2 separate regions of the Homo sapiens genome follow, and region 2 is linked to region 1. The links come from fine-mapping of genetic effects on gene expression. A gene starts in region 1. The other region holds a variant in brackets. All regions are shown on one strand. Distances are from middle to middle. Region 1 holds the start of NIPAL1 (NIPA like domain containing 1). Region 2 overlaps NFXL1 (nuclear transcription factor, X-box binding like 1).

Evidence for each region. PIP is the estimated chance that this variant, and not a neighbour inherited with it, causes the effect. A credible set is the group of variants that fine-mapping cannot tell apart.
Region 2: its variant is the best candidate, but not a certain one, in a credible set for the expression of NIPAL1 in whole blood (TOPMed, PIP 0.59).

Annotation. Positions count from the first base shown.
Region 1 is chr4:48,014,309-48,018,308 of GRCh38, reverse strand. It overlaps NIPAL1 (NIPA like domain containing 1), which reads right to left and starts at 1,537. Exons shown (of 6, transcript NM_207330.3): 1 at 1,424-1,537. The coding sequence starts at 1,469. It overlaps CNGA1 (cyclic nucleotide gated channel subunit alpha 1), which reads left to right and starts at 1,628. Exons shown (of 11, transcript NM_001379270.1): 1 at 1,628-1,826. RefSeq lists silencers at 902-1,061, 1,352-1,681 and an enhancer at 1,446-1,947.
Region 2 is chr4:47,864,340-47,868,866 of GRCh38, reverse strand. All of the region lies in intron 18 of NFXL1 (nuclear transcription factor, X-box binding like 1), which reads left to right. All of the region lies in intron 1 of LOC101927179 (a long non-coding RNA gene), which reads right to left. Among named protein-coding and RNA genes, the nearest start is that of CORIN, 29 kb to the right of the region's middle. The variant G/C (reference allele first, on the strand shown) is at 2,673.

The sequences.
Region 1 (4,000 bases):
ATTCATATACCTTCCTTACTTACAGATCCTTGGGTAAACAAGTGTGGGTGTGTTAGTAACTGTCAGATTTGCTGGGTTAGAAATTATTTAGAAAAAGGGCACACAACCTGACTCTCTAGGAAATAATTCTAGATTCAGCTGCCTTAAAATTTTTGTTTTTTAATAGTTTGTGAGTTGTTCAGGCGTTATTGCTCTTTTTCAGAAAAAAAGACTAGAAAATAATTCTAGATCCAGCGGCCTTAAAAAATTTTTTTTAATAGCTTGTGAATTGTTCAGGCATTTTTCTCCTTTTTTTGGTGTCCCTTCTCTTCCTTGCTAGCATGGTTTGGACGAGCTCACTTGTTAAAAAGGAATAAGCTGGAAGAGTCAAGAGGAGAGGAAACTAGGGAAGTTGCGAGCACCTTTGCAAAGGTGTATATGTATATACATATATATATATATATATGTGTAAGGGAACTATATATATATGTGTATATATATAGTAGTTCTTACCATGCCTTTCACTGCCTCCCTTCCCCTTTACTGCATTATCAGGTAAATTAAAAAGCTGCTTTCCCCTTGGTACGGCGAAAACCATCATTTCAATGTATCTACATCCTTCCAGTCGCTCCCCCTACCCCCTTCCCTACTTTTATCGGGGCCTTCTGTATGGAGACTGCAGAAAACCCGCCAGTGTTGCGAACACTTGGCGAAGGGCAAGGAGCCTCGCCCAGAGATTTCACGGGGCTCAGGTGAGAAGCAGTAAGAAGAGCCTGCAAACGAGTGCTCCCGGTTCCAGGTTTCCTCTCCAGTACGGCTCTCGCCTTAAGCAGCCAGAGTGACTGCACAGCGAGTCAGACAGGCTCATGGGTTTGGAGACCTTTTCATTTCCAAGGAAGAGGAGAGACGTGGGCGGCCCAGACTTGCCCAACGCCCACCCCCGCGGCCCCGGGCGCCCAACCTCTCGCGGTGCTCGATCCCCGGGAGCCAGCGCAGGGCGCAGCGCAGAACTCCCACGGGCCCCCCAGGCAGACACGCCCTCTGCCCACCGGGTGACGTCGGCCGCAGACTCTGGAAGGGAGCCTGAGTCAGAGGAAACGTCCTTCTCAGAGGGACTCGGGATTCTTCCCATAGCATCCTGAGTTTCCCCGTCCCACACGCAGCACGCGGTAATTTACACTGGTCGGCCTCGCGAATCGAGTGGGAGTCCCACCTGCCTTATTCCACTCAGGTTTTCCAGCACAGCCCGAATCGCCTAGGCACCCATAAATAAGTGTTGAACGCCTGGCTGGACGGCCGACTGACTGAATGAATGAATGAGTGAACGACTACGTTTAGAGTCGGTACAGCCCCCCTTTCCAGTCTCCGCAAGTGTCCGGGGACCGCCCACCCGGTCTCTTCGCCACCCAGCTGCCAGGTCCCTCGGCTCAGGGCAGACACAAACCTTCTCGGCAGGGCTCTCCGGGCGGCAGCCTCACCTGTGCCCCCATGGCCCCGGGAGCGGGCTTCCGGAACGCGGGCGCTTGCTCCTCACCTGGGCCTCTCCACACGCACCCGCGGCGGGCGGGGCTGCGGGGTCTGGGAATGGGGCGCCCTGACCCCGCCCCCGGGGCAGCCTCCGCCAATGGGCATGGCCAGGCGGGGCCTCAGCGCCAGCCGAGCCCTGCTGCCCGGGGCTTGTTGCGAATTCTCAGGGCCCCCGCAGGCCTGGGAGCGGCCTGTGATAACTGGTGTATCTGGCAGGAGTAGCAGCTGCCCCTTGGCGCGACTGCTGGAGCCGCGAACTAGAGAAACACAGACACGCCTCATAGAGCAACAGCGTCTCTCGGAGCGTGGAGCCCGCCAAGGTAACTCCGGGAATTGAGTGGAGTGGAGGCTGCACTGAGGCCCCCTTCTGGCTCCTCTCTGGTCGAAAAGGCTCCCCCGCTAGAGAGAGCCCTGCTGCTTTTGGAAGCCTTCAGGTGTTAGTTGCTTTGCACCGAAGCTGCTGACTGCTGGGGTTCTGCGCCGATTGCCAGGCTCAAGTTTATTTTGGGGGCTGCTGAGCAGACTTTGCCCTTCTGTGCTGTTATCAGCTTCTGTCGCTGTCCGTCCACGCCCGCTATATCCATCCACTCTCCGTTCTGTCTCCAGCAGGCAACTCCCCCTACCCTGCCCCATTTTCTGGGTCATAGGGGTATTTGAAATAAACCTTTAAGGGAAAAGCAATGCCAAAACTGGAAAGACTTATTTCCACGAATTATTAATAACTAATGTTTATGATATCCTTGTTATACCATACATATGCAGGCACATTATGTATTAATTAAATCTCACAGCAGTCTATTAACGCTCAGTTTACAGATGAGGGATTAGAGGCAAAGAGTGAGGTTAAGTAACCAAACCAAGGTTGGAAGACCTGATAGCAGGTATTTACAAAACAAGGAGTGGGCAGGGCTGGCGGGTGGCTCACCCCTGTAATCACAGCACTTTGGGAGGTTGAGGCGAGTGGCTCTCTTGAGTCCACAAGTTCGAGACTAGCCTGGGCATCATGGTGAAACCCTGTCTCTACAAAAATTAGCCAGATGTGGTGGTGTACTCCTGTAGTCTCAGCTACTCAGGAGGCTGAGGTGGGAGGACGGATGACTTGAGCCCAGGAGGTGGAGGCTACAGTGAGACATGATCGAACCACTGCACTCTAGTCCAGGCAACAGAGTGAGACCCTGTCTCAAGAAAAAAAAAGGTGAGGGGTGGGGTAGTGAACAATTCGGGCTCAAACCCTCACCAGGGAGAACTGGGGTGCCTTTGTGCTCTGGCATTTTAACACTGAGGAAAATATTCTCATGTACTCAGGTAGCCTTTGTTCTAAGTAGGCATGAACAGTGCTATTAATTTTATTACCTAAGAGTTTCATAGCAGAGGCCTCAATCTTGTTTTTCTTGTTCTTAGGCGGATGAGAGAAGAGCTAAGAACAAATTAGTCAACATACCAGTCCAAGGCACCCACTTTTATAATACATATGGATGACTTTGCAGAGAAGGAACACCACGGAGAGTGGAATAGGTGAAAGTTGAAAGCGAGGGAGATTTATGCCAATTTTCCATAACAAGCCTTAAAACTTAGACTTCTTTTTGTTTGCTTGTTTGTTTGTTTGGCTTGGTTTGGTTTTTTTTGAGACGGAGTCTCGCTCTGTCGCCCAGGCTGGAGTGCAGTGGCGCGATCTCGGCTCACTGCAAGCTCCGCCTCCTGGGTTCACGCCATTCTCCTGCCTCAGCCTCCCGAGTAGCTGGGACTACAGGCGCCCCCCACCACGCCCGGCTAATTTTTTGTATTTTTTTTTTTAGTAGAGATGGGGTTTCACCGTGTTAACCAGCATGCTCTCAATCTCCTGACCTCGTGATCCGCCTACCTCGGCCTCCCAAAGGGCTGGGATTACAGGCGTGAGCCACCTAGCCCGGCCCAAAACTTAGACTTCTATTTAAACGTTTTCTTTGGATTTCCAACTTAAAATTTTGTCTTTATCAAAAATTAGTAATGATGGTAAACGTGATCTATGGTGCTTATTTTTTATTTAACAAACACTTGGATAGCATTTACTATGTGGCAAGCACTATTCTAATCTCTTTGTAAATATTTGCTTTATAAATCTTCATGAAAATCCTGTAAGGTAGATACTACTACCCCCACTTTACAGCTGAGGAAATGGAGGCACACAAAGATTGAGTAACTGGCCTATGCACACATAACCAGTAAGTGTGGAACCAAGATGCTAACCAAGAAAGCTGGGCTTCAAGTATGTGCTCTTAACCCATTTGGTAATTGGACATTAAAAAACAAAACAGACTTTAAAAAATGTATCTTTATTGAATTTCAGTTGCATATTAAGGTCTACTTTAGGTAAGAGGCATTTTGTTGTAGTTCTTGCTTTTCAATTCTGAAAATAAAGAGAAAAAATTCAGAAAAAAAATATTTAAACTCATTTAAGACCACTGCTTTTCCAGTTTAAATGTTGCCTAGCAGAAATTTATAATATGTATTTTCC
Region 2 (4,527 bases), 150 kb after region 1:
TCATACAGAATTTTTAATAATTACGGCTTTTAGCATTGAAAGGTATCCTTTGTTACATTTAATACTTTTGGCTTGAATTCTTATGCATCCCCTTTTTCATTTTAGTAGGCAAGTTAAGTAAGTCCTTTAACAATTTTTAATATCACTAATATCTTTGGTTTAGCTCTGAATTATTACTTTATGATTACTGTTTGTATTATGTCACTTTTTCTTTATGTGATACGTTTTCTTTGCTCTTACAATTTTCTCCTATTAAGGTTTGTTTTCGTTTAGTGGTTGATTACTTTTTTTTTTTGTACGTTTTTAATGTCTTTAGACCCTTGTTTCTTCCATCTTTTACTAACTGGTTTGTCAGCTTTTAATTTTATCACCTGGTTCTCATTTAAGACTGTATGACAATCAGTGAGTTTGTTTGCCTTTTTTTCTCTCCTTCTCTTCTCATTGTTTAGTTGCATGTTTTATTCTTTTTCAGAACATATGACATTTATATATTATTCTACCCCCATTCCGACCTTTTTTTCTTTTTCTTTTCTATTTTTTTTTTTTTTGAGACGGAGTCTCGCTCTGTCACCCAGGCTGGAGTGCAATGGTGCGATCTCGGCTCACTGCAAGCTCCGCTTCCCGAGTTCACGCCATTTTCCTGCCTAAGCCTCCCGCGTAGCTGGGACTACAGGTGCCCGCCGCCACGCCTGGCTAATTTTGTTTTTGTATTTTTAGTAGAGATAGGGTTTCACCGTGTTAGCCAGGATGGTCTCTATCTCCTGACCTCGTGATCCACCCGCCTCGGCCTCCCAAAGTGCTGAGATTACAGGCGTGAGCCACTGCGCCCAGCCCTTTTTTTCTTAGATTTTCAATTTTGAATTTCAACCATCAGTCTTTTTGCTGAAATTTCCCAATCTTCTCTTGGTTGAATGAAGTGCATCCTCTAGTAGTTTCTCCAAGAGAGCTTGTGAGTATAGTATTCCCTGAATGCTTAATTCTTAAACATTCCCTTGCATGTTTTAAGAATGTTTTGCTATAGCATTTACAGTTGTATAAAAAGTCTTTTATTGATGCGTTCTTTCCTAGAGTTTCTTGGAAATGTGGCTCTATGCTGCTTTCGTTTATATTTTACTTTTGAGAAATTTGATGCCAGTCTCTTCTCCTTATGAGTTAATTGATCTTTTTTACCTGGGACCCCTAAAGTTGTTTCTTTCTCCTTCACTTCCCTCCTCCTCCTCCTCCATCTTTAAAATCTAATGTTTTTATTAAGGTACGACTCAGGGTTAATAATTTTTGATAAATTTTTTCAGGTACCTGATTAGCCCTTTCAACATATAAGTTCAATATTTTTATTTTCCTGGATTATAGTTTTAAATACCAGATCTGTTTCATTTATTTTGTTTTTTAGTGATATCAATTGTATATATGTTGGGTTTTCTTTTTCTGTCTCCCATTTCACTCAATTACTTCTTTGATACTTTTTTCTATATCTCATTTTTATCATCTAGGATGTTTTGCTGCCTCGTTTCAGGGAGCCTTATTAAATTTTGATTCAAGTATGTTCTTCTGTAAATATGTTCTTTCATGAGCACCTTGTAATTTAGTTTTTATTTCTGATGTAATTTTATCTTAATTTTTTTTTTCCTGAATTCAATCAACCTTTGTTCATTTCTTCTCCATTATGTTCTTAGGTTTTGCTTTTCTGACTTAAGGTGGTAGTGTATTGAAGAGCCCTATACCATGCTCATATTGGGTAATTTGCCAGGACTCACAGGACTCAGCATATAGTTATACCTACTGCTATGAGTTATTACAGCAAAAGGGTAGGAGGCACAGTCAGCAAAGGGAAAAGGCACATGAGGTGAAGTGTAGGGCAAACCAGTCACAAGCGCCCAGAGTCTGCTCCCAGTGGAGCCACATAGTTTGTACTTAATTCTCCCAGCACTGAGTTGTGACAACACTTGTAAAATGTTTCCAACCAGAGAAGTTCATTAGAGCACCTAGAGTTTTTACTGGGGGAAGGCTACATAGGCAGCCTCACCTGGTACATACCAGAGTTCAGGGCTCTCAAGAGGGAAAGCAACTGTTCAGCATAAACCATTTGATTTATACAGTTTAGACATAGTCAGCTGTTCTTACCAGTTCTGGGAATGGTGGGAACCTTCCTGAAATCCAGATTCCCAAGCACCAGCCAAGGGCTAGTCTTACAAGGAGGCCTTTCAAAAGATAGTGGTCAGGTCTGCTAGGTTAACACTTCTGTATAAGCAGTGTTTCATATAGTTAATTCAGTTTGGAATATTATGTTCCAGTTTTCTTCTTCTTTGTACTTCTTTTTTTGGGTGGGAGATACAGGAGGGGATTTTCATCAGCAAAAAGGCTTTGGATGTCATTTTCTGTTTATTTTCTATAGTAGTTTTTTATAGTTGTAAATTACATATCTTTATGTTTTTGGACAGAGCTTAGTATAAGATTTCTAGTTGATGACCACTCTCTTGCCAGTGTGGGAAAATACAATTTTTTAAATGGTTGGCGTTTGAGGGTGGTACTGAGAAGAGGAGAGGAGTTATGTGTCCTTATTTTACTTTTGTTTTCTTTGGTCTTGCAAAATCCTAAATTTCCCTTCTTTTGCCGGGTCTAAAGAAGTCTGCCTAAAGTCTGCCTTTCCCTTTTTACCTTCTTCCCAGAGTGTT[G/C]CCTTTCCAAGATTGGCTACTTGAATCTTGTGTACTTATTTTATTTTATTTTATTTTGAAACAAGTCTGAAGTCTAAAGTCTGCCTTTCCCTTTTTACCTTCTTCCCGGAGTGTTGCCTTTCCAAGATTGGCTACTTGAATCTCGTATACTTTTTAAATTTTTTTTTATTTTTATTTTTTGAGACAAGGTGTCTCTCTGTCTCCCAGACTGGATGCAGTGGCGCACTCACGGCTCACTGCAGCCTTGACCTCCCAGGCTCAGGTGATCTTCCCACCTCAGCTTTCCTAGTAGCTGGGACTACAGGTGCACACCATCGCACCAGGCTAATTTTGGTGTTTTTTTGTAGAGACGGGGTTTTGCCATGTTGCCAAGGCTGGTCTCGAACTCCTGGGCTCTGGCAGTTCACCTTCCTCGGCCTCCGGCAGTTCACCTTCCTCGGCCTCCGAAAGTGCTGGGATTAGAGGCATGAGCCACTGCACCCAGCCTGGTGTACTTGTTAAAATCCATTCCCTTTAGTTAGTGCTGTGGTCTACCAGGGTATTTTCAGTATTTTCATATTTAGGGGGACCTTTTTCTGTTGTGATTTTAGCTCAGCCTCCTCTTCTGTTTTTCATTTAGTTTTTTTCAGAACTCCACTAGCTCTATGAAAATACTTGCATTGGGAGCTTGAAAAATAGCTCTCTCAGGAGTTGTTTTTTTTTTTTTCCTAGTTATAGGTAATTTGAAGTTTGTAGAAATTTGTGTCTTCTAGTTGTGCTGTGGTCGTGGGATTCAGTGATTTTGTTATTAATGAGCTATATGTTTTTTGAGGGGGACATGTGGATATATTTGGATTAAGGTGGCTTCCATTACCTCAGCACTACAGATTTTTTTTCTTAAATACATATTAAAGTATATGTTTTAATATAGAATTCTATCGCTTCAGTTCTAATAATTTCGTTTGCTTTCAATTCAGTGAATTATTTAAGTCATCTTTTCCTTTTAGTCCTGTGTGGAAAAAAACACAAACTGTTTTTCCTCTGCTCTTAAAACACAACAATCAACACAAAAGACTTTTGTGACCAAATGTGTGGGAGTTTCTTTCAACCAAGAAGAAAACAATCACTTCTGTAGCAGGCACCAGCTGGGTGTCCTCTAATTCATTTCTGAGACTACCTGGAGAAAGTGTCAGATCCTGTAGGTTGAGGGCTTAGTCCCACAAGACTGCCTTCCCTTCAGACACTGGTCTGAAGTTCAGGCCTCTGGAATCTCTGACTGACCGGCTTCAAGTTTAGGTTCACACAGCCCCCTCTTTGGGTTTGATTAATTTGCTAGAGTGCCTCATAAATCTCAGAGAAAAACTTAACTTATGTTTACTGGTTTATTATAAAGGATATTGCAAAGTATACAGATGAAGAGATACATAGAGTGAGGTATGAAAGAAGGGGTATGGTGATTCCATTCCTACCCCTGCCCCACCATTTGCATGCCACCCTCCAGGAACCTCTGTGTTCAGCTATTCATAAGCTTTTCGTACCCTATCTTCTTGGGCCTTTATGGAGAATTCATTGGATAGGCATGATTGAAGTATGGACACTCATGTAGAAGTGTGACTGGACAGAGGGTGTGATCTAGTAATTATAGACCGAGTAGGGAAACCCAACAAGGCCTGTTTCAGTTCTTTTTGGCCTGTGTGTACAGCATTCCTTCTTCCAGAGTATGGGACAGGACCCCTTCTGAAATGGGGTCTTATGACCTACAATCAGACAAGGTAGGTCAGAGAATTTCTTTACGGCCTGCTCAAGACAGAAAGGCGGAGGAAGGTTATATTTTTAGTTTTAATGGCATGCCTTGGGGAAAAATAACAGGGGCTGT